7 linked regions of the Homo sapiens genome follow. The protein of the gene in region 1 purifies or fractionates together with the protein of each later gene. This does not show direct contact. Each region holds a gene or a part of one and is shown in the gene's direction. Other genes may lie near its edges.

Evidence for each region.
Region 2: the proteins of TSPAN17 (region 1) and GHDC purify together in Homo sapiens (affinity purification with mass spectrometry; 3 studies listed by BioGRID and IntAct, with this or other methods). This does not show direct contact.
Region 3: the proteins of TSPAN17 (region 1) and SLC44A1 purify together in Homo sapiens (affinity purification with mass spectrometry; 3 studies listed by BioGRID and IntAct, with this or other methods). This does not show direct contact.
Region 4: the proteins of TSPAN17 (region 1) and GPM6A purify together in Homo sapiens (affinity purification with mass spectrometry; 2 studies listed by BioGRID and IntAct, with this or other methods). This does not show direct contact.
Region 5: the proteins of TSPAN17 (region 1) and DHRS7 purify together in Homo sapiens (affinity purification with mass spectrometry; 2 studies listed by BioGRID and IntAct, with this or other methods). This does not show direct contact.
Region 6: the proteins of TSPAN17 (region 1) and PNPLA6 purify together in Homo sapiens (affinity purification with mass spectrometry; 2 studies listed by BioGRID and IntAct, with this or other methods). This does not show direct contact.
Region 7: the proteins of TSPAN17 (region 1) and HS2ST1 purify together in Homo sapiens (affinity purification with mass spectrometry; 2 studies listed by BioGRID and IntAct, with this or other methods). This does not show direct contact.

The regions. Positions count from the first base shown.
Region 1 is NC_000005.10:176,650,484-176,653,983, forward strand, and holds part of TSPAN17 (tetraspanin-17), read left to right. Parts: intron 1-1,132; coding exon 1,133-1,183; intron 1,184-1,270; coding exon 1,271-1,417; intron 1,418-2,259; coding exon 2,260-2,430; intron 2,431-3,500. UniProt on the Homo sapiens protein: Part of TspanC8 subgroup, composed of 6 members that interact with the transmembrane metalloprotease ADAM10.
Region 2 is NC_000017.11:42,188,587-42,191,494, reverse strand, and holds the end of GHDC (GH3 domain-containing protein isoform 1 precursor), read left to right. Parts: intron 1-284; coding exon 285-477; intron 478-591; coding exon 592-663; intron 664-737; coding exon 738-871; intron 872-1,135; coding exon of another isoform or gene 1,136-1,224; coding exon 1,225-1,310; intron 1,311-1,573; coding exon 1,574-1,792; 3' UTR 1,793-2,408; downstream 2,409-2,908.
Region 3 is NC_000009.12:105,247,651-105,251,150, forward strand, and holds part of SLC44A1 (choline transporter-like protein 1), read left to right. Parts: intron 1-3,500.
Region 4 is NC_000004.12:175,669,265-175,672,764, reverse strand, and holds part of GPM6A (neuronal membrane glycoprotein M6-a), read left to right. Parts: intron 1-3,500. UniProt on the Homo sapiens protein: Involved in neuronal differentiation, including differentiation and migration of neuronal stem cells. Plays a role in neuronal plasticity and is involved in neurite and filopodia outgrowth, filopodia motility and probably synapse formation.
Region 5 is NC_000014.9:60,155,399-60,158,898, reverse strand, and holds part of DHRS7 (dehydrogenase/reductase SDR family member 7 isoform 1 precursor), read left to right. Parts: intron 1-2,746; coding exon 2,747-2,899; intron 2,900-3,500. UniProt on the Homo sapiens protein: NADPH-dependent oxidoreductase which catalyzes the reduction of a variety of compounds bearing carbonyl groups including steroids, retinoids and xenobiotics.
Region 6 is NC_000019.10:7,552,717-7,556,216, forward strand, and holds part of PNPLA6 (patatin-like phospholipase domain-containing protein 6), read left to right. Parts: intron 1-1,155; coding exon of another isoform or gene 1,156-1,158; coding exon 1,159-1,299; intron 1,300-1,492; coding exon 1,493-1,556; intron 1,557-1,838; coding exon 1,839-2,007; intron 2,008-2,176; coding exon 2,177-2,359; intron 2,360-2,532; coding exon 2,533-2,651; intron 2,652-2,890; coding exon 2,891-3,047; intron 3,048-3,500. UniProt on the Homo sapiens protein: Phospholipase B that deacylates intracellular phosphatidylcholine (PtdCho), generating glycerophosphocholine (GroPtdCho). This deacylation occurs at both sn-2 and sn-1 positions of PtdCho.
Region 7 is NC_000001.11:86,917,635-86,921,134, forward strand, and holds part of HS2ST1 (heparan sulfate 2-O-sulfotransferase 1), read left to right. Parts: intron 1-3,500. UniProt on the Homo sapiens protein: Catalyzes the transfer of a sulfo group from 3'-phospho-5'-adenylyl sulfate (PAPS) to the 2-OH position of iduronic acid (IdoA) or glucuronic acid (GlcA) within the heparan sulfate (HS) chain and participates in HS biosynthesis.

The DNA.
Region 1 (3,500 bases):
GGGGTTGAGTTAACTGAGGTGGGGTTCAGGAAGGAGAAAGTGGCACTCAGTCCCCTGTCTGAAGGCCAAGGGCAGGCCAAGTGGGAGGAGGCAGGAGAAGTGATGTTTGGTTTCACATCAGCAGACCCAGCAGGCAGGAGGGAAGGGAAGATGTTTCCAGAGAAAGAATAGAGCAGTGTGGGGAGCCCACGGTCAGGGAAGGGAAGGTGATAAAGGCCTTGGCCGTGGCTATGTGCTGAGGGGAAGGAGCCTGCAGATAAAGCAGGTGGGTGGGGAGGTCGCAGGAGGTGGGGTCATGGCCCTGGGCTTGGGTACGACAGCCTTTCCCCCTCTGAGACTGCACGCCCAGGGACCTGCCCAGGGTCAGGTGTGAGAGTGACCAGCCTGGACATCCAGGGCTCTTCCCAGTAGGGAATTGAGGCAGGAAGGTGGGAAAGCTGAGGATGGAGGAGAGGCACTTGGACTGCCCCGGTGGGGAGTCTAGCTGGTGTTCTGAAGGCCCAGGCAGAGCTGTGGCCATGGGGCAAAGCCACTGGCACAGGCCAGATCCTAGGTGGATCCTGCTAGGGATGATTGAGATTCCTGTCATTCAGGGGTGTCTGGTCGTGAGCCGTGGAAGCTGACTCTGGCAGGCGGAGGTTAAAGGGGTAGGATGGGGCTGGGCTGGGGAGGAGTGTTGAGGGCGGGGCCGCAGTCACACGGCTTTAGGGTAGCAGGAGAGCTGGACTTGGCAGGGTGCAGAAAGGAGGCTAGGAGCCTGGAACCCCAGCACCAGCTTCGGTCAGGTGTAGAGGCTCAGTATACTGGCGCCGTCGCTACCCCCGCTGACACAGCTGCTATTGCTCCTTGGCAGGAGTGTCTTGGCCACCGTCTGCTCCAATTTGGAGTTCCAGGAAGGGGCCCCTGATGTCCATCCCAAGGCTAGCAGAGGGTTCAGTCCTCCAGGCTGTGTCCTGTGGGGAAGAAGCACTGGGATGTGTTCTTGGGAAGATGGAAAGGACCCCGGATCCCGTTCACAGCCCTTGTGCCTCTTCCTCTCTCCGCTGGAAAGGCCCTGGCTACCGGGGAAGGATGAGGGGGGAGGGTCCTGGGGCTGCTCCCAGCCCTGAGCTCTTTGTTGCTGCCCTTGCAGGTGCTGGGAGCCCTGTTCCTGGCTATCGGCCTCTGGGCCTGGGGTGAGAAGGTAAGGCAGCGGGCGGGCGTGGAGCTGGTATGGGACGAGGTGGTGGGAAGGTCAGCTCCCCACACCTGCCTCTGCTGCCCGGCACAGGGCGTTCTCTCGAACATCTCAGCGCTGACAGATCTGGGAGGCCTTGACCCCGTGTGGCTGTTTGTGGTAGTTGGAGGCGTCATGTCGGTGCTGGGCTTTGCTGGCTGCATTGGGGCCCTCCGGGAGAACACCTTCCTGCTCAAGTTTGTGAGTGCTGCCCTCAAGATCCCCTGGGAACCCCCATCTCCTCCCATCCAGTTCTTGCAATACAGTTGGAGCTTAATGATGGGTAGCTTTATTATTATGCTATAATCGTCATCGTTAGATTCATGTTGTCTATATTTACTAGGATCCTTTCCGTGGTATGGTAAGTGACCGAGACCTGGTGGCCCAAGCATAAAATATTTATTGACTCAAATAAGAAAAGTCCAGGGTTGTGCTGGCTGCCGGTGCATTTTGATCCAGGGGCTGCCACAGTTTCACTTGGCCTGGTTTCTCCCTGTTTCTCGGGCTCCCCCCGTTTGGCTCCATTCCCAGGTGGCAGGAGGCTCAGGAACAGAGCCGGCTTCCCCATGCCCTCCCAGGAACTCCTGCTGGAGGCTGAGAGCTCTCTTCCCAACCGTTTTCCCAAAGTGCTTTAATTGCGTTTCCTTGGCTCTGATTGGCTGCCTCTGGACCAATCCCTGGAGGCCGAGGGAGGCAGTGCTCTGATTGGTGGGCTTTAGGCACTTGCCAGTCCTGTATCTGGGACTGGTGGGTTTGGGGAGGTGTCTCCATCCGAACCTTGGAAACTAAAGGTTTGCATGGAGGATGGTTTTTCAGAGACAGCAGGGTGTGATTACCAGACAAAGGGAATTGGATGGGTAGGTAACAACAGATGCCTATTACCATCATATAACAATACTAAAATAATAGAAGGTGGGGGCTCTGGGCGCCTCTGGGTCTTGGTGGAGGTAGGGATGGAGCCCTTCCCTGTGGCACACCCAAGCCCTGGGAGGTCACCAGAGCCCTGCGTTTCCAACCCCTACTGTCTGTATGCCCAACCCCAGTTCTCCGTGTTCCTCGGTCTCATCTTCTTCCTGGAGCTGGCAACAGGGATCCTGGCCTTTGTCTTCAAGGACTGGATTCGAGACCAGCTCAACCTCTTCATCAACAACAACGTCAAGGCCTACCGGGACGACATTGACCTCCAGAACCTCATTGACTTTGCTCAGGAATACGTGAGTCCAGTGTCCAGCCTGGGACACCTGTAGGAGGCGCCTTCCTGGCAGACGAATGAGGGAGCAAGTTCCCTGTGATGGGACCATCTCCTTACCCACCTGGGCTAGCGGGCCCCAGGAGAGAGACCCAGGAGTGTCCTCGTCCGAGGAGAGCCAGCCCCTGCTGATCCTTATGGGTCCCCATTTGCCTAGTGCCATAGGGCCACGGCCTTGGGAAACAGAGGGCATGGGCTCCACGCTAGCAGCTCCCAGGCCAGGGCCTACGACACACGGGAGAATGGAGGAAATGTGACATAAAATATAGATTTCTACTTCTGCTAAACCTTGGGCCCACGGTATTGGCTGCAGCTATGTTGCTGCTGCCCCTTCACTGGTACAGAGGCTCTCTGTTTGCCATTGTTCCCAACACTCTGTATTTTATTATATCTGTCAGCCCTTATCTCTCATTTATACTATGTTTGGCCTCTGTGTATATTAGAGTTTAGACCCCTGATGGAAGGTCTGCCCTCAAACTTACAAACTTAACCCCAGTGAAGAGCAGCCAGAGAAGAGTTCCTGAAACCCTATCTGCCTCCCACCTGCACCATCTCGCCCACTCACCCCTAACCACAAACACACAGTCACACACTGTCACCCACAGTCACAACCACACCTAGTCACACACTCGCAGGCACACTTGATCACACCTACACCTACACATGGTCCCACAGTCACACATGAGTCACACCCGATCACACCCACACACGGCGACAGGCCCTTGGCACCATTCACCACCAAGAGTCAGCTCTGGATCCAGAGGTGAAGCAGAGCTGGTGCCTGCTTCAAGCAGCTCTCAACCCAGGGCAGAGGCAGACATAGCCAGGCAGTTATGATGCAGTTCATTCATTCATTCAGCACAGGATTGTTAAGGGCCTACCATATGCCGGACCCAGAGCCAGGCCCTGAGGATTCGGCGGGGAAGAAAGCTGGGACCTGTCCTCTCAGGGCTGGCAGTCGGGAAGAGACAGATGGTGAACAAGCAGAACAAACAAATGTGTGCATGTACATACGTGTGTATGCAAAATTGTACA
Region 2 (2,908 bases), on another chromosome or scaffold:
AGAGCGAGACTCTGTCTCAAAAAAAAAAAGAGTCTTGCACAAATTCATGTGGCACCAGGATTCACTCCCAAGTCTGCCCCCTCCAGGACCACAGCACTCTGCCTCTTTCCAGTGAGGGCCTAAGAGGCAGCCCGCTGAGGCTGGGGGAGCCAGGAAGGATGTGGTGGAAGGGCAGCAGGAGGATCAGGTGCTCAGAGGATCAGGCCTGGGATCCAGGAGGGGCTATTGCCTGGCAGAAAGCGATGGCACCAGCAGACGCTGAGGAGGCTGCTTTGCTTTCACAGGGGTGCTGGGCCTAAACCTACAGCCAGAGCAGCCCCATGGGCTCTACCTTCTGCCCCCTGGGGCCCCCTTTATCGAGCTGCTCCCAGTCAAGGAAGGCACCCAGGAGGAAGCTGCCTCCACCCTCCTTTTGGCCGAGGCCCAGCAGGGCAAGGAGTATGAGCTGGTGCTGACGGACCGCGCCAGCCTCACCAGGTGATCAGCTGCACAGCCCCTGCTACCTGGGGCCCTATGGGACCGTGCTGGGGGCCTGGGGCATGAGCTCAGAAGACCTTGGGCCCGACCTCACTCCCACTTGCACCCCATCAGGTGCCGCCTGGGTGATGTGGTGCGAGTGGTTGGTGCCTACAATCAGTGTCCAGTCGTCAGGTTCATCTGCAGGTAGGTGACCCCGGGGAGCTGAAGGGCCATCCTTGTGTCCTGGGCTCCACTGCCTCTCCCTTCCTCCTCTTCAGGCTGGACCAGACCCTGAGTGTGCGAGGGGAAGATATTGGTGAAGACCTGTTCTCTGAGGCCCTGGGCCGGGCAGTGGGGCAGTGGGCGGGGGCCAAGCTGCTGGACCATGGCTGTGTGGAGAGCAGCATTCTGGGTGAGCCTCCCCACCGGCTCCTGCCTACCATCCTTGAGCTACCCTTCAACTCCTACCTCCCCTGCCAGGGGACTGCTAGGAAAGAGATAAGCCTCCTTTACTACTCCTACAAAAGTCCTTCTCTGCATCTAACTCTCATCCATCCTGCTGCAGTCTCTACCCATTTTCTTTCCTGATCTGTCTCCTATTTAGGATCAAGCTCTAGGTTCCTCTCCATTTACCCCACTCCCCACCAAGAAACTCTTTTTTCCCTATGAATCTCAGAGTGGGGAAGAACAGATAGGGCAGAGGACACTAGACTTGGCAGCTGCCCATTCACCGGAAGTATGTGTGCACATGGGGTCTATTCACAGATTCCTCTGCGGGCTCTGCTCCCCACTACGAGGTGTTTGTGGCGCTGAGGGGGCTGAGGAATCTGTCAGAGGAAAATCGAGACAAGGTAAAGGAGACGAGGACAGGGTCTGACTGTAGACCCCTTCACTCTGCACACTCCCAGGGTGCCATGGAGATCAGGGCTGATGGGAAGGAGAGGGGTGGCGGAGGAGAAGCTCCCTGGGGCTCTGGGAGGGGAGGGCTAAGTCCCACAGACACACACCTGTCCACACAAAACTTCTAAACACATGTAGCCTGGGCACAGCCACACACGCCTCGTGTGCACACTCACAGTCACACACCAGCTCACTCAGGCTGTTCTGTTCCCAGCTGGACCACTGCCTTCAGGAAGCCTCTCCCCGCTACAAGTCCCTGCGGTTCTGGGGCAGCGTGGGCCCTGCCAGAGTCCACCTGGTGGGGCAGGGAGCCTTCCGAGCACTCCGGGCAGCCCTCGCTGCCTGCCCCTCCTCCCCCTTCCCCCCTGCGATGCCCCGGGTCCTTCGGCACAGGCACCTGGCCCAGTGTCTGCAGGAGAGGGTGGTGTCCTGAGTCAAGTCCTGCCCCACCGCCCAGCTCCCCCCAGAGGCCACCTCGCCCCTCCCTCTGGGACCTCTCCGGATGGGGAGTCCTTGGCCAGGGTCTCTGACTCTGTGTCACCTGACATTTGCCCATGAGAGCCGCTGGGCCTTAGAGAGGCCTTGGCCCAGCTGACCGGTTCTGAAGTATGGGCCTCCGGGGTTAGCAGATGCCAGCAGTGCCTGCCCGTGTCCCCATGTCCCGGCATGAAGGACACTGCTAGAGAGTTACCATGCACACCGATGGTTTCCTGTATCACAGCCCAAAGAGGTTCTCTGGTGGCCACAGCTGTGTGCTCAGTCAGTGCACTGGGCAAGCTAGAAGTGTTGGGGGGTTAATGTCCCCAGGAGCAGCAACCCTGAGTCAATAAGGAGCAGGACCTCAGCTTCATTGTCCTTGAGCAGGACAATTCTGAAGTGTATTCTACATAAACTCTCAGAGGATGCCCAGCAGGATGGAGTCCCAGTTGCCCGCAGCAGTAACCCACTCATTCATGTACTTCCTGCGGGGGCTCTCCCTTCCCTCTCTTCCCCACTCCCCCGCCTTGGGCTTCCTGGGATGGCTCCCAAATAAACCTCTTGCACCCAGATTCTTGCCTCAGGGTCTGCTTTGGGGAAACGGGAGTGGACCCCGGCCCAGCCATTCCCCCACTGAGCTCCAGGACTTTCCCCCAACATTCTGCTCTGGGCCTGGCAAGGCTGCATGCGCACACAGGAGCCTTGGAGGACTCGTGGCACATCCTAGGCCAGCACCCACAAACCACTTCTGCGGTGGGGAAGGGAGAGCTATTACTTCACATCATAAGGCATCGCCGCAGGAAGCAACTCCGGAGACCATCTGGGTTCACTGTTCCATACTAATGAGGAAACGCAGCCTCCACAAGGTTGTAGAGGCTAAAATAAAAGAAAGAAAGAAACTGGGCTAGATTTTGGCTTCCTTCCCTCCCACTGCCTGGACTGGAGTTTTAAGGTTTTCCATCTTGGAGGCTGATGGGAGGGGCAGACCTCAGCTCCTCCTCAGTAGAGGCAGCACTGGATCCAGATGCCTCTGAATAGCTTCTCCATTCCATGTCCCACACCCAGGTCCTGG
Region 3 (3,500 bases), on another chromosome or scaffold:
GATTGTAAGCTTCTTGAGCACAGGAACTGTTTTTGTTTTCCTTATTTGTGTATCTACTGCAGTGCCTCACTGTACCTTGTACTTAATAGTTGCTCAGCAGTAGTCACTGGAGGGAATATGTAGACATATATTTGAACCTCTGGCTGGCAAGTGGCATCGAATGTGAATCTAGACCTGACCCATCTACTGTTTGTAAATTCTATGGGCTGGTTGATTAATTTTGCCAAGCTGTCCTCTTCTAAACTCAAACCTGGACTGTTTAAGTTAAAATTTACCTGCCTTTTCTATATCCCTTCCTGTTCTTTCAGTGGTACCATCAGCTTGCAAAATTGTTCAAGGTTTTCCTTTGCTCCTGATGACCTGCTTAATGTGTATGTTTTAGTTGGAGCAGTGGCTACAACATCTTAAAAGAGCTTGTCTGCAAACTCTAATGATAACCTACACAACACATGAAAACAGTGTGCTTTGAGGTAATCTGCAGTTCAGTTTAGCTTTTCTCAGCAGTATCTTCAGCAACTTTAAAGCTCTGGCAGGTTTTATCAATGTAAATAAAGTGCATTTTCTTTTTGTAGCAGGGCTTCACTTTTGAAATATAATTTATTTTCCCTTACAGTCTCTTGCTATGTTGTAGATTCTCATAAAAGAGTTTGTGGTCTTCCAAACTTTGATCTCTTGTAATCTGTCCTGGTATTATTTTCATTTTCTTGGCAGTGTCTGGGTATCATGATTTTCCATCAAAATAATTATACTGTTTTAGGATTTAGATCAAAGAAAAGTGTCACATTCTATACTAGCATTTCATTGCTAGAGGAGCAGATTATTGGCAAAATAATTTGTGCTGTATCAGCTATGTACATCTAGGATCTTAAAAGTGTCTAGTGAGTCAGGGCTCTTAAGGAACTTTTTAAATTATTTTTTAAAAATTAGTGACCATTACAAGTTGTTTACTAATATTGGTAATTGCTCAATACAAACCAACACAGGACAGTCTTTGCCTAAAAGTCTTTTGAGGGGAACGTAAAAGTAAGATAGTCTTGAGTTTCTTTTTACAGTACTAATCCTCCCTAAGGCTCTTAAAATTTATTCCCATCTCCCTATAATTCATTTGTTCTGGTATAACCTGACATAATTTCTATCCTTGTAATGTTAAACTTCAAATTTCACTTGTAAATCTTCAGATTTATTAAATGCTCTTTCCCATTGACAAACCAGTTTGAATGAATCTTTTGAAAGATTACTTAGCAAATTGCCGTAAGTCTTTGTCCTTAATGGCTAGATGATTATTTCTCACAGCAGTGCTTTAGAGGCCAGGAGATTTTGCAAGTTCTGTGAAGTTCTGTGTCCTTCAGTTCTAACCTTAAATGTTGTAAGAGGGATGGAGGAGAATCTTTCAAGTTGAACAAACTGCCGCTTGTCTGTCTAGCGTTAGGAGACATTTGTCCACTGTCTCATCCCATTGTCTTCAAATTGAAGGCTGTATATTTAACTGTCTTTTTGTAGCACTCATATTCTGTTTTGGGAGTAATAAAAAACAATCAGAAGTGGTTTACAAATGCTGGTTAATATTTGCATATGCTAACTGTGCTTTAACAATTTTAATAATACCATCATCTGTATCAGCTTTGTGGAGTTTGAAGTGAGATGGTAAAAATTAAATTTGAAGAGTGTAGTGGGAATTACCCACAGAGACTAAAGTTGCTCAGTTAAATTAAGACCTGCAAAGTAAACTTCATCTAACGGGAACAGAAGTCATGGCATGAAGCCTTTTTTTTCCTTCATCTTCTGAATACTGTGTTGTTAGCATAGAGGATCTACTCCTCAAAATATGTAAATCAAAGTTAATTTCGAAATTGGAAAATAATGTAGAAATGGTAATTTTTTTTTTTTTTTTGAGCCAGAGTTTGGCTCTCATCGCCCAGGCTGGAGTGTGGTGGCATAATCTCGGTTCACTGCAACCTCTGCCTCCCGGGTTCAAGTGATTCTACTGCCTCAGCTTCTCAAGTAGCTGGGATTACAGGTGCTCGCCACCACACCCAGCTAATTTTTTTTTTTTTTTGTATTTTTAGTAGAGACGAGTTTTCACCATGTTGGCCAGGGTGGTCTCGAACTCCTGACCTCAGATGATCCACCCGCCTCAGCCTCCCAAAGTGCTGGGATTACAGGCATGAGCCTCCATGCCCGGCCAATTCCCAAATCTTAAATTGCAGTTTACTAATTTTTTTTTTTTTTTTTTTGTGAAGTAGGGTCTTGCTTTGTCACCCAGGCTAGAGTGCAATGGCATGATCATAGCTCACTGCAGCTTTGATCTTCTGGGCTCAAGTGATCCTCCCACCTCAGCCTCCTGAGTAGCTGAGACTATAGGCACGAGCTCACGCCTGGCTATTTTTTTAATGTTTTAAATTTTTTGTAGAGACAGGATCCCACTATGTTGCCTAGGCTGGTCTCAAACTCCCGGGTTCAAACTATGCTCCTGCCTTGGCCTCCCAAAGTGCTAGGATTATAGGTGTGAGCCACTGCACCCGGCCTACTTTTTTATCTTTAGAAAATGTTTACTTTTCTAAAGATAAAATTTTGAATTAAGGAATTTCCAAGTTAAATTTCACACCACCATTTTGAACTTTCTACAGTTGCCATCTGGAGAGTAGCATGGTACAGCAAAACTAGTCCACTTAGAATGCTTCCAGGCTTAACAAATACTATACTATCAAATACTATTTGATGTGTTAACAGTACAGTCATTTAAAAATGTTATTGGCCTGGGAAAATTATTCATAAAAATATATTCTACTACCAGTAATTGGTTGATAGTTGTTTTTCTATGCTCCCCTTTCCCCTGCTCAAACTGCAAAGAAAGAATGAAATATTTCAATTTTGTAATTTTGCCTCAGATTTTTGGGACTATAGGGGATATATGAGATAAACCTACTATCACTTTTCTGTTGATCTAAACTAGAATGTAGAGATATGAAGTAGACTGAGGTCAGAGAGATACATTATGAGGTAGCTGGGATTAGAAACCTGCTTAATCTCTTAATCTCTTGTCCTTTCTGTAGTACAGTACTATTAATTCTTAATGTCTCAGGCTTTCTTTTCCTTTCATCCTTGGCTGCACATTGGAATCACTTGGAGAAGTTTACAAATGTTATGGAAGTGATGCCTGGGTCCTATTCCCAAAGATTCTTATGTATTGGTCCAAGACTGCGGGCTGGGCATCAAAAAAAGTTTTTTTTTCTGTTTTATAAGTGCTTCTTGCAGAGCAGGGCTAACCCATAATAGTACACCCAGAGTAGCCAGCATCAAAACTTTTAAAAGTTCCCCTGGTAGCCCTCGTGTGTCACCAAGTTTGAGAGCCACTCTTCCTTACCCTTTCTCTAGGTAATTTCATCCCTCGTATGGCTTCAGTTACAGTCTGTATGTTAACAGTTCCCAAACTAAATTACTGTCCTGGTCGCTGATCCTTATATCCAACTGATTAATTAGCATTTACACTAGAATATTGT
Region 4 (3,500 bases), on another chromosome or scaffold:
CTTATAAGAATCATCTGTTTTTAGTTTGGGACAAAACTTATTGTAACACCCAAAGAGATAAAATATATGAGTAGGAGTAAAACTGGAATCCCAATAATGTGACTAAGGGGCTTTAAATTGTGCCTTATTATTGAAATTATTTAAATCAGTAATAGCGAATTATAGATCCAGGGAAACTTAGTTACAGAGAGATATTGGATTGATGAAAAAATAAAATATGACTAATTTGTGGTCCAATTTTCAGTGATGCCCAAGCAATTTCTCCAGTAAAAAGGCAAATTCCGATTTTAAGATTCATTTCCCTTCTGTCAATAGAGTATAGTGAATTGAGTTATATAGTAATTGGCTTTTTATTACAATTGGAACAGTAACATTGTAATGCCACTGGTGTGCCTTGGCAAGTTACTTACCTTTTATGGATCACAGTTTCCTCATTTACAAAATGAGGATCATTTCTAAAGCTTATTCCAGCTCAACGAGTCTGTGATTCTAAAACCCTAACGAAAAAATAAAGAGATAAGGGGGTCTGAAAGCACGTCTTTACCGTAAGGTAATAACCTTCTGCCAGGACGAGTGCAGTCAATTGTGTTATTTCATTCAGAATTTGAAAATAACTTCATAATAAAAAGACAAAGCAATCAAGGAAGAATTGCATATCTATATATAGAGAGAGATGCACTTGGTTATCTGCCTGCCATTCAAGCATCTTAAAGGTATTTCAAATAGGAATTTTCGAAGCAAAACATGAGCCACGTTTTCTTTCTTTCTTTTTTTTTTTTTCTATAATGGTAACAATTGTGTCACCAGTCCCACCCAACAGACCAGAAGGGTGGCAGCAGCTGCTGCGTGGGCTCCTCCAGAGGCAATGCAGCAGGGTGTCAGCCCAGCAAGATGCCCCGCCCACTCCTGTAACACCTCCCTGACACCCCGGAATGAGCAGAGCAGAGACAGGAGTAGGAGCTGCATTCTTCTGCGTTCTGCAGAGACAGCAGAGCAGCGGGTGAGGCTCTGAGCCATACCCTGGCTGTCCCAACACTGCCTTCACGAAGGGGGCTAGCTCCACGACTGAGAAGTAAACAGTGGCGGCTGCAGCCAGCGCTGCAGAACCCTGCCTCCCTTCCCCTCTGCCAACCATTCCTCCACACCCCCACCTCAGCTTGCATATCACGCAGGACTTGTAGCTCCATGAAATCGAGGGGAAAAGAAAGATTTATCGTCCACCCTCTCCTGCTACTTATTTCCACTCTACTGATGCTGCTTTTTTTTTTTTTTTTTTTTTTTTTTTTTCGTTTGTAGGCAGATTGTATCTTACGGTCTACTTTATTATGTTCAAAGTGAACCTGTTAACCTCTTTTGCCTGTGTTCCGTAGCTGTGAATGAGTCTGTGCTTTTGAAGGTACTATATCGGTGCAGCTCTAGTTGGAACACTGAATAATACTAAAGGGTGGATTTTTTTTTTTTGCAACAAGTATATAAAAATCTTCCTTAGTTAATACTAACAGAAATTTGTTATTCTATCCCTGTTTCTCTCTGCTGCATAAAAAGTAAATGGTTACTAATTGAAATTATATCAGCACAAATGCAATTAATTTTGAAGCAGCAGGCCGGGCGTGGTGGCTCACACCTGTAATCCTAGCACTTTGGGAGGCCGAGGCAGGCGGATCACGAGGTTAGGAGTTCGTAGACCAGCATGGTCAACATAGTGAAACCCTGTCTCTACTAAAAATAAAAAAATTAGCCGGGCATGGTGGCAGGCGCCTGTAATTCCAGCTACTTGGGAGGCTGAGGCAGGAGAATCGCTTGAACCCAGGAGGCAGAGGTTGCAGTGAGCCCAGATCGTGCCACTGCACTCCAGCCTGGGCGACAGAGCAAGACTTTGTCTCAAAAAAAAAAAAAAAAAAAATGAAGCAACATTGTATCACTGAATGGAGAGTGATAATCAATATTCCCTTTACTTAATGAATGCCTTTGAAAGCATAACTTGGTCTGCATTCTGTGTTTCCTTTCATGCGGTATCAGCACCAATTCAAGTTCATTACAATATTTTAATGCTATCTGTCATTCAAAATCCAGAATTTGAGGCACGTAAAACCACAATATTAAATTTTGAGGGTGAAAATCATTATTAACGACTTTATTAAAACATTATATGAAAAGTTATTAAAGTATTTTAAGTAACAAAATTTATTTACCTTAAATATTAAATGGCACCAAATTGAGTACAAATACATGTTATTGACTACATTGAACATGACCTTTTTAAGTTTAATGTAGAAGTATTTATTTTCTTTAACCATATTTTCTTATTAAAGTTTAAGCCAAAACATATTTATTCCGCTGCAAATTAGGAGACCTTCAGTGTGTCACATTTTCAAATCTTGAGATATTTTTTGCCCCCATCCCCAATTTTCTTATTTCTACAAATTTCCGATTGCTACTGTGACATCATTATGGATCTCAGAATTTATCTATACTTCTTCTGAAATTTAGATTTTTAAATGCAACACTTTCGAAGTAATAGATTTCCCAAATGTACTAAACTCTATGGAATTTTCAATAAATGTATTTTCCATAAATCTACCTGCTCTAAGAGTTAAATAAAACAATAATAACTTTTGGAAGTGTGTTTACTAGTTTGCTAGGGCTACCACAACAAAGTGCTATAAAGTGGATGGCCTAAACAACAGAAATTCATTGTCTCACAGTTCAGGAAGCTAGAAGTTTGAGACCAAAGTGTCACCGGGTTGATTTTTTTTTTTTCCTGAGGGCTGTAAAGAACACCCGGTTCCATGTTTCTCCCCTACCTTCTGGTTGGCTGCTGGTAATTTTTGGCATCCAGTGGTTTATAGAAGTTTCACCCATCACTGCCTTCACATTCATATGATGTTCTTCCTGCCTGAAAAGCTGTGTCCAAATTTCCCCTTTTTTTATAAGGACAGCAGTCATATGGGAATAGAGCCCACCCTAGTGACCTAATTTTTTACTTTTTCAACTCAGTAAAGAGCAATAAGGTCAATCTCTGAGACACTGGTGGTAGAATTTCATCATATGAATTTTGTGAGGACACAATTCAACTCATAACAGTCTTATGATAACAGTAATGTTCTTCCATATATAAGTTTTAAAGAAACAAAATTAACTAGTTGCTATTGTTACCCTGTTTCAGAGATAAAGAAACATAAAAGGTTGAATATCCTAATCTGAAAATCCCAAATCTGAAATGCTCCAAAATGTGAAACTTTTTGAGCGTCAACGTGATGCTCAAAGGAAATGTTCATTGGAGCATTGCAGATTTGGGGTATTTGGATTTGGGATGTTCAACTGGTAAGTTAATGCAAATATTACAAAACCTAAAAAAAATTTGAAATTCAAAACACTTCTGGCCCTAAGCATTTCAGACAAAGGATTTTCAACCCTTATTCTATTTGTTTAGTTTAAAACATCTGTCTTATTAGCCTCAGGTGTTTGTAGATTTGGCCACAGCATATTAGATTAGTATT
Region 5 (3,500 bases), on another chromosome or scaffold:
GCATTTAAAAGCTTATCATATCAGTATAAAAAAGATCCCTGGAATGATTAGACTTTCCCAAAAAAGGAGCTGAAGCCTTCAGAGATAATTAGCTTCCTCATCCTGTGAGGGAATTAGAGATGGGTCAAGGGCTTGAGAAGAGAATTCTCAAACTGGAGTGGGGGTTGAACTATCACTTTCCTTTCAACTCTTAAGAATCTACTTTCAGGGGCTCTTAAAGGGAGGCCATTATGTATACCAGATTCTGTGGAATCGGGAAACAAACGGTGCTAAATAAAAAAGTTTCTTCAGGGTGGGAGGAAGAGGCCAGAATTGTGATTGTATTAAAAGTTTACACCATCAGCTTTAAATATTTGCTTATGTGTGTAAATATCAAGAGGTCTTTGTTAGCTCGACACTAGTTAGTAAATCCTGTGTTTCTAAAACAAATGATATTCACTCTAGAGTGTGATGATTGCAGAACTTGGGAACAACAAGTAGTCAATGAATGAATAAATGATTATCTGAATAGATGTTATGTTGTTCTTGATAAAGTCCTATAGGAAGGTGGCCCAATTGTGCCTTTTCACAAAAGTACGTTATATGACAGGAAAGCATTGTAGCCCAGACATAGTATTTGGGATGTTTCCATCCTTAGTTGAGATTTTTTTTTTTTTTTTTTTTTTTCCGACAGAGTCTCACTCTGTCACCCATGCTGGAGTGCAGTGGAGCAATCTTGGCTCACTGCAACCTCTGCCTCCCAGGTTCAAGCAATTCTTGCACCTCAGCCTCCTGAGTAGTTGGGGTTACAACGATGCGCCACCACACCTGGCTAATTTTTGTATTTTTCATAGAGAACAGGTTCCATCATGTTGGCCAGGCTGGTCTCGAACTCCTGGCCTCAAGTGATCTGCCCGCCTTGGCCTCCCAAAGTGCTGGGATTACAGATGTGAGCCACCGTACCTGGCCTTAGTTGAGATATTTACATGGAACCTTTTTCTTAAGGACAAGTGGTATTTTCTTGAATGTCTAAGAAACAGTTGGGTTTTAAAATATTGATCATATGTAAATGTGTATATCATGAAATAGTGGACAGTGTGGGCTTTGGAGCTAGATATACCTGGGCTTATATCCCGGCTCTGCCAGGGTTCTTGGGTGTTTATTCAGTAGTTATTTATGGAGCCTTTTCAATATTCCAGTCTTTGCTAAGCACTGAGGCCACAGCAATGAACAAGGTAGACAGGGTCCTACCCTTAATGGAATCTATGGTCTAGTGGGACAAATTAATCTCTGTAAACCTCAGTTACCTTTTCTGTAAAACTGAGATAATAATACCTTTCCATACAGTTCTGGTGAGGCTTTTAGTAGACAATGTGCTAAGTACATAGGAAGTAATGTAAAAACGTTAAGCCATTAGAATTGGTAACTCTGTTTTCCTGGCTGGAGAAGTTAGGAGACATACGTTATTAAGTGACTGTTCTATGTTTTGCTGTAGTAAAGTCCATCTGTTAAAAAACTTGAGCAATAATTATAATTGACGTTTATTAAACACTGAGTATGTACTAGATACTGCCCTGAGTGCTTTCCATGTTTTAACTCATTTCTCAACAATCCTGTGAAGGATGTGTTCTTATTCATCACATTTCCAGTTGTGGAAAATTAAGGCACCAAGTTCTCACCTGGGAGCATTTCAGTGCTGTGTGTGATGGAGCTGGCATTTGAACCCTGGCAGTCTCCAGGGATGGTACTGTTAACATCACAGTTAGGATTTAGAGCTGTTTAAAACAGTACAATCATTTCCTGATTTTAACTTTTCTGATCTAAAATCGGAAATGTGATGTTAAGTGATACGATATTTGATATTTTTGATAAATAACATATATTTTAGTAAATAAGTCACCCAGGAACTTTGCATAACAGTGACTTTACGGGTTCAGAGAGACAGTGAATATCATCTCCTGAAGTGCTAATAAGTTTTTCATTGGAGAAAAGAATAAACCATTTGTCATTGCTTTAGTACTGTAACATTTGTAGTCTTTTAAGAGGAACATAATTGGAGAAGCAGAGTACAATATTTCATCTCTCTGTAATATGCATTTGTTCTTGGGTGAATTACTATATTCTCCTAAGATGAAAGCTCAGGCATCTGGGGAACATTTTTACAAAATGACCTTGAGCTGATAGGCATCAGGCATTATTGGCAAATGGGGAAAATACTACTTTAAAAATCTAGGATGTTTCCATCAACAGCACAGAACTTGGTATATTTAGATTCTTCATCAACCTCCATTGCAAAATATTAGAATAATAGAATTAAAAACTGGATGTGACCTTCAGCCATCATCTAATCTGAATGCCTCATTTAATGGCTAAGGAAAAGTGAGTCCAGACAGTGATTTTTGTATTTACTTAGCCTGTTTATCTTATCTATCATATTTATCTTACCTGTTTGTGTTAAATAGAGCCTTAGAGTGAAACCATGAGGTTATAAGGCTTACCTTGAAGTAAAGTCTGGAAAAGTCATGAAGGTTCTGTAATATACAAATACTGTGTTGATAACTGTTACTAGTATGATTTGTATTAATGCTTTTTTTTTTTTTTAGTTAAGAAGGAGATGCTTTCTTAGAATATTTCAAATTTTAACTCTATACATCATGCCTTCATATTTAGTGGTATTGTTTAAGGCTTTCTTTTTTTTTTCTAATCTTGGATTTATGAGCGTAATTCATTGCTTATTTTCTTCCTTCCATTTACATTCCTTCCATAGAATGGGAGCTGACTGATATGGTGGTGTGGGTGACTGGAGCCTCGAGTGGAATTGGTGAGGAGCTGGCTTACCAGTTGTCTAAACTAGGAGTTTCTCTTGTGCTGTCAGCCAGAAGAGTGCATGAGCTGGAAAGGGTGAAAAGAAGATGCCTAGGTAAGCGGATCTGAAATAGCAGCGGTGCTTCCTAGAAATAAATCAGTCCAAACTCAAATACAGTTTTGGGACTTTTAGAGAGGAGTGAGATTTCCCCCCGGCTCCAAATGTTCTACATGCTTCATCTCAGTTCCTCTCCTTTTTGCCTTAATTGGCTGCCCTCGCCTTTTTCTTCTTTTCTGCCACCTTTCTATGCTTTTTTTGCACTGACTCTTGGCATTAGGGAGTGACCAACAATTATATAAAATGCTGGTGGATTTTTAGTGACCAAGTATCTTAGATTTTTGTCTTAGAGAAAAAACAGTTGGGTTCTTATCCATGACATACATGTATCTGATCATAGAAATTAGGAAGAATCCTTACTCATTTTATTAAAGTATCAGATATTAAAATCATATGGGATAAGACTTATTATATAGGATAAAAGAACAGGAATGGAATTAGCTTTAAAAAATACAACTTGAGGTAATACTTTCATATTCACATAAAGGGCAACAGTGTTAATATTTTTGTTTGAATTTTGGTGTAGTTATGTTTACTTTTTTCTTTTTGAGATGAAGTCTCACTTTGTTGCCCAGGCTGGAGTACAATGGTGTGATCT
Region 6 (3,500 bases), on another chromosome or scaffold:
TGCACTCCAGCCTGGGCAACCAGAGCAAAACTCCATCTCAAAAAAAAAAAAAGAAAGAAAAAAAAAAAGAAAAGAAAAGGAAAGAAATTACAGATAGAGAATACAATATCTAGAAGACAAAAGAGGGTCATCTTGCCGTGTGGCTGAAAGAGGGAGGGAGGAAGGGAGGGAGAAAGAGGCTTTTCTAAGGACAGTGAGCTGAGACTTGACAACTAAGATGGGGCCAGACATGAAAGAGAAACCAGGGGTGCTGCACAGGAGGCTGGTGGTTTTGAAGCACTGAGGAGGAAAGCGATCAAGGGGAGAGGTGATGGGGGTTGGGGGGTAAGTCACATAGGGGCTAGGGGCTGTGGACAGGCACTTGAGCTTATTTAGATTGTTATTGTTAGATTGGGGAGGAAGGATTCCACCAGTAAGGAGGCAACAAGAGGTCTAGGCAAGATATGGGAGTTGACAGCTGGTCTAGGCTGTTAGTGGAGAAACTGGGAAGCAACAGCTGGGTCAAAAGTAGCTTTTCTTTTCTTGTCTTTGTCTTTTCTTTTATTTTCTTTTTAAGACAGGGTCTCGCTCTGTAGCCCAGGCTGGAGTGCAGTGGCACGATCTCGGCTCACTGCAACCTCTGCCTCCCAGGTTCAAGTGATTCTCCTGCCTCAGCCTCCCAAGTAGCTGGGATTACAGGTGTATGCCACCATGCCTGGCTAATTGTTGTGTATTTTTAGTAGAGCAGTGTTTCTCCATGTTGGCTAGGCTAAAAATAGCTTTATTTCTGCCTCGTTTTATGTTCAGGTCCCCCATTAGACAGAGGAACCAAGGCCAGAATGAGGCAGGGGCACTGGCCAATTGATCTCCCAAGCACAGTGAATCTGAATGGTTGTAGAGTTGTGTAATGGATCCCACTGAGGTGATCAGGGCCCAAAGTGGAGGGTAGATGGCCAGGTTTTAACAAAAGAGGGAATAGTAGTTGAGGCTGAGGGTCCAGGACCAGAGCCATGGCTTTCTGTATGGTAGAGTCAAGACTTTGGGCAACTGGGGGCTGCAGTCTGGGAGCACAGGAGCAAGAATTTCAGATAAGGAGGAAGAGGAAGAAGAGGAGGAGGAGGGTTCATCTCTCTGGACACAGGTTCGCACCACAAATCTCATCCATTGGGTTCTTAGCAGGCTCTGGGTTGGGTGTGCCCCCACACTCGGAACTCACCAACCCAGCCAGCAACCTGGCAACTGTGGCAATCCTGCCTGTGTGTGCTGAGGTCCCCATGGTGGCCTTCACGCTGGAGCTGCAGCACGCCCTGCAGGCCATCGGTCAGTGGGGTGAGGGTCATGGGTGGGGGCTGGCGGTGGGTGGGACATTAGTGAGTGAGAGATGTTAGGGTAGGTCATTTGGGGGGTGGAGGGGAACAGGGCCACAGGGGCGGGGTAATGGGTATTCTTTTCTGAGTTAGGCCCCAGCCCTGTGGACCATGGTTCCCAGCCTCCCTTCCCCACCTACCCCTAGGTCCGACGCTACTCCTTAACAGTGACATCATCCGGGCACGCCTGGGGGCCTCCGCACTGGATAGGTGTGTGTTGCAGAAGGGAGTGGGGAGGGTGGTGGGTGGGCCTGGAGCCTCAAATTCTTTCAGACCTGAGTTCAAGTTCTTGGCTTCCAACCACGGAGCCTGCGTCTTACCCATAGGTCAATGGGGAGATTCGCAGTGGTGTGAATCTGCCCACCGGAGCACGGACTTCCGTGGTGGGGGTTTGGGTGTCTAAGTTCCTCCCAGCAACGGAGCTATGTGGTCTCGGGGAGCACACTGACCCCAGGCCAACCCCAGGATGACGCTGCCCCCTTCCCACCCTAGCATCCAAGAGTTCCGGCTGTCAGGGTGGCTGGCCCAGCAGGAGGATGCACACCGTATCGTACTCTACCAGACGGACGCCTCGCTGACGCCCTGGACCGTGCGCTGCCTGCGACAGGCCGACTGCATCCTCATTGTGGGCCTGGGGGACCAGGAGCCTACCCTCGGCCAGGTCGGAAGCCCGTGCCCCCTGATCTCACCCACCTCGGGTCCCGTCCTTTGCCCTCCCGTGCCTGCACCAGGCCACGTGCACCCTCGCCATGGGGGTAGGCGATCAGGGACCCAGGTGTGGCCAGGTGGTGGTGGGGCGGCTGGTGACCTCAGCCGTCCGTATTCCGCAGCTGGAGCAGATGCTGGAGAACACGGCTGTGCGCGCCCTTAAGCAGCTAGTCCTGCTCCACCGAGAGGAGGGCGCGGGCCCCACGCGCACCGTGGAGTGGCTAAATATGCGCAGCTGGTGCTCGGGGCACCTGCACCTGCGCTGTCCGCGCCGCCTCTTTTCGCGCCGCAGCCCTGCCAAGCTGGTGAGGAGCGGGCCGGCCCCCACCTTCTAGGGGCGTGGCTGGTGGGCGAGGCTTGGGAGACTGGGGCGGGGCCTGGGAGGGCTGAGGACAGGCTCGAAGGTCAGGGTACCCCTGGGGGATCCGCCGGACCCCGCCCTCATGCTCCTGGGTCGCGACTATCTCCCCCATCCCAGCATGAGCTCTACGAGAAGGTTTTCTCCAGGCGCGCGGACCGGCACAGCGACTTCTCCCGCTTGGCGAGGGTGCTCACGGGGAACACCATTGCCCTTGTGCTAGGCGGGGGCGGGGCCAGGTGAGGGCGGGGCTTGCTCTCTGGGGGCGGGGCCTGGATGTCCGAGGGTGGAGCTTCCTGGGAGAAACCGTGGGGGCGGGGCCTGGGTGTTCGAGGGTGGAGCTTCCCCTCCGGGAGAGACCCCGTGGGTAGGGGCGGGTCCTTTGTTCCTTAGCAGTGCGGGAGGTGGGAGGAGGTAGGGGCAGGGGAGTTCCTGCAGGTGGGGCCTAGCGGGTCACTGGGGCCCATTTTCCCGGCAGGGGCTGCTCGCACATCGGAGTACTAAAGGCATTAGAGGAGGCGGGGGTCCCCGTGGACCTGGTGGGCGGCACGTCCATTGGCTCTTTCATCGGAGCGTTGTACGCGGAGGAGCGCAGCGCCAGCCGCACGAAGCAGCGGGCCCGGGAGTGGGCCAAGGTGTGTGTTGCGAGGAGGGATTGCTGCACCCCAGGAGTGCCATAAAACCCGTGGTTCCAACCTAACCTGATCCCATGGGGGAGCCTCCGGGGTCAGGGTGACCCTTCCTGATTAAATCTATGATCCCCAGCTGTCCGGACTTTTATAGATAAGCTTCTAGGACTCTGGGTAACCACTTTGGGACCTCCTGTCTACTGACCCTAACCCATAACCCCCAACGAGAGCACCCAGGGCCCTTGGTGACCACCTTGTGGATGGCCTTGGATGACCACATCATCCCTAAGTGTTCCTTTTTTTTTTTTTTTTTTTTTTTTTTTGAGACTGAGTCTTGCTCTGTCGCCCAGGCTGGAGTGCAGTGGCACAATCTCGGCTCACTGCAACCTCCACCTCCCAGGTTCAAGTGATTTATCCGCCTCAGCCTCATGAGTAGCTGGGATTACAGGCACGCCCCAC
Region 7 (3,500 bases), on another chromosome or scaffold:
TGCAACCCAGGTATGTATGATTCCAAATCAAGTGCTCCTTTAATTATGTCCGGCTGCTTAAGACTTTATATTGACATTACGCTGAGATTTAGGTATTTGAATAGAGTTTTAAAATTGTAATATCAGTGTTTAATTGCATTTATTGCTAAGAATGAATATCATTCAGAGAAAATTGAATTTCTGATACAAAGGAATTGGTTTAATGTAACGTCTGCCCCTTGTTTAGATTCATGTAATGAACATAATTATGTTACCCAATGAAACAACTGAATTAGATAGCTTATTTTTACTATAGGAAAGAAAAATCTAGCTGTTTTCCATACGTGCAAAATCACAATGTTAAAAAAGCATTTTTATTTTGGCATAAAAAACCTATTAAACATTTTGTCCTTAAAAGTAGTTATTATCATTTTCATTGTAGAAGATTCCAAAGGATAGTATTGTCTGATAGTGGCTTTAATATACCTTGATTTGAGAGTACAGTATTTTGATGGTGAGACTTCTAATAGAGCAATAGATGTATTCAAAACTGAGGTGTACTCATTGACTACTTGGGAAATTCACTAATTAGGAATTCCTAAAAAAAAAAATTCAGTAATACAGCTTTTTATTTTTATTTTTTAAAAAACAAATATGGCATTGTAGTCCACATATTACAATGCGGCTTGCTTTTTTTGCCTTGAATGTTATACACATCTTTCCAGGTCAGTACATATAGATGTGACTTACTCATTCTATTAATAATAGCTGTATAATATTCCAAAGTATGCATGTATCATAAATTATTAAGCCATTATTCTAGTAACGGACATTCAGTTTGTCCCCCATCTGTCGTGTGTGTGCGTGTGTATATATACATATATATATAATTTTTTTGAGTGTTTCTTTTCTTTCTTGGTATTATAAACAATTATAGGAAACATCCTTATGTGTCCGTTTAACTCATGTTGATGTCATTTTGTGCTAGGATGAATTCTGTATGTGAGATTGCTGGGACAAAGAATATACATATTTTATAATTTAACAGATTTAAAAATCTACTTTTCAACATTTTTTTGTTTTTCAAAAGATGTAGTAATCTACACTGCCAGCACACATTCATTAGCACTAGAAGATAATCAGCTTTTAATTTTTGCCAGTGTGAAGCTGTGAAATGATATATTCAATTAATTTACCTTCTAATTTCTAGGTAGGTTGAACATCTTTACATGTTTATTGCCCTTTTATTTGTTACTTTTTTCTATTTTTCTATTGGGTGGTTTACTTTTTTTTTTAAATATTAGAATTAGTAATCCTTTATCTATCCTATGTCTTTTTTAAATTTTTTTTATTTTTATTTATTTATTTATTTATTTATTTTTTTGAGATGAGCCTTGCTGTCACCCAGGCTGGAGTGCAGTGGCACGATTTCGGCTCACTCCTGCCTCAGCCTCCCAAGTAGCGGGGATTGCAGGTACGTGCCACCACGCCCAGGTAATTTTTGTATTTTTAGTAGAGACAGGGTTTCACCATGTTGGCCAGGCTGGTCTTGAACTCCTGACCTCAAGTGATCTGCCCCCCTCTGCCTTCCAAAATGCTGGGATTACAGGCATGAGCCACTGCACCCGGCCTCTTATTTGTTTTTGTCCAAGTTTGCCATTTGTTTCTTGACTTTATGGTGTGTTTTGCTCATATAGAAGTTTTAAAATACACACAGTTAAATCTATCAATTTAGGGAAGTCGTTTTCATATTTTGCTTAGGAAGACTTACCCAGAGCCAGGATTGTGTACATTTTCTGTATTTTATTATAGTATTTTATAGTTTATTACATTTGGCTCTTTAAACCATTTGTATGTTTACAGAGATTTATCATGATTTTCTCAGTAAATCATTTTTTCCAACTGTATGTTAACATTCCTTCTTTTAATCACATACTAAGTTTTCATATGTTCTTGGATCAATTTTGGATGCTATTTTCCATTAATCAGAGATTCTTTAAACCTCGGGGACCCATAAATAGGCTTCAAGGTATCAGTGAATTCCCTGAAATTATATACATAACTTTCATCAGATTTGCAAAGGAGTATGTGATTCCTTTAATGGCAAGGATCACAGATTTATAGTAGATGTTTCATATTTAGTGGACTTTTTTTTGTTTTTAGTAACATAACGTGCAGATTGTGAGTTAAATTTAGGAGATAAGCTTATTACCTGTGAAAAAGAGAAGTTTTTCAACTTCAAATGAAGTTAATACTTCATTGTATTAAAATGTAGACTTAATTTTCTAGTGAGAAATGGAAAAGGACAGGGAATCCAAATGAAAACTATTTAACTGTGACTCGTTACTATAAAATGTCAGAATTTGTGGCTGGTAAAAAGTAGTTCTTCCCGAATTTCAAGAGCGCACTTGTTGCTAATATTGACTGGTCGAACAGTGCAGTGAAATATTTTCTCACATAAGTGATAGAACTATGTGCTTGGTAACTTTATTTTCTATAGGGTTTTAGCATTGTAAATAATATTTGTTGACTGTATTCTTACATCTCTATATGGATTTATGAGCACATTAGGAATAATCTTTTACATGGGGAAAATAATTGAGAATGGATTATGTAATCATCCATTGGTGAGAATTAATGTTAGTCATTATGTTCTTAAAACTCTACTAGACTAAACAACTAATTCCAGGGCCAAGGTTGAGACTGCTTTTTGGAATTTGGTAGTTTTTACAAGTAAGTTCCTGAAACCATGCAGCAATACCTGTAAGATGTTCCAGAGAATGCTAGATTTCCTCACTTCTGAAATCATTTGGAAAACCTCATAGTAGCTACTGTTTTGAGGACTTTGGGTTAATAGGAATACAGTTATTCTAGAATTGGTAATTGGTGCCTCACTTAGTCTTGAATAGGATGTCTAGTGCCATGGAGTAGTCACCTGAAATAGTTGATCTCAATTAAGATAATTCCAGGATGTCTGTCCACCACTCTGGTAGGCCTTCTAATAGCTTTTTGGCACTTAGAGAAATTGAAATAATAATGAATGTTCAAAGATTGCTCTCCAGAAGACCATTTTTGAAGGATGTACTTATAGATGAACTTCATAATCATGGTTCACTATAGCCTAGTTATTTTTAAGATCTACCCACCTACCAGTACCTGTACTTACGTATTCTGCCTTTCTGCCTGTTAACAATAGATGGTAACTGTCAGTGCTCCTGTTCGGTCATTTGTGCACCTGATTCTGTTGCCTCACTTACCTAAAGACATGGTTCCCGAAGCTTTCCCTCATTCTCCTGTCACAATGTATTCTTGAAAATTGCTAAGAGAGTGGATTTTAAGTGTTTTCACCATACCAAAAAAAAAAGTATGTGAGGTAATGCATGTTGTCTTAATTAGCTTGATTTAGCCATCCATGATATATACATGTTTTAAAACATGTTGTACATGATAAATATATACAGTTTTGTCAATTACAAATAAAAAAAAACTATCTTGGTAAATGTTCCAGGTGAACGTGAAAA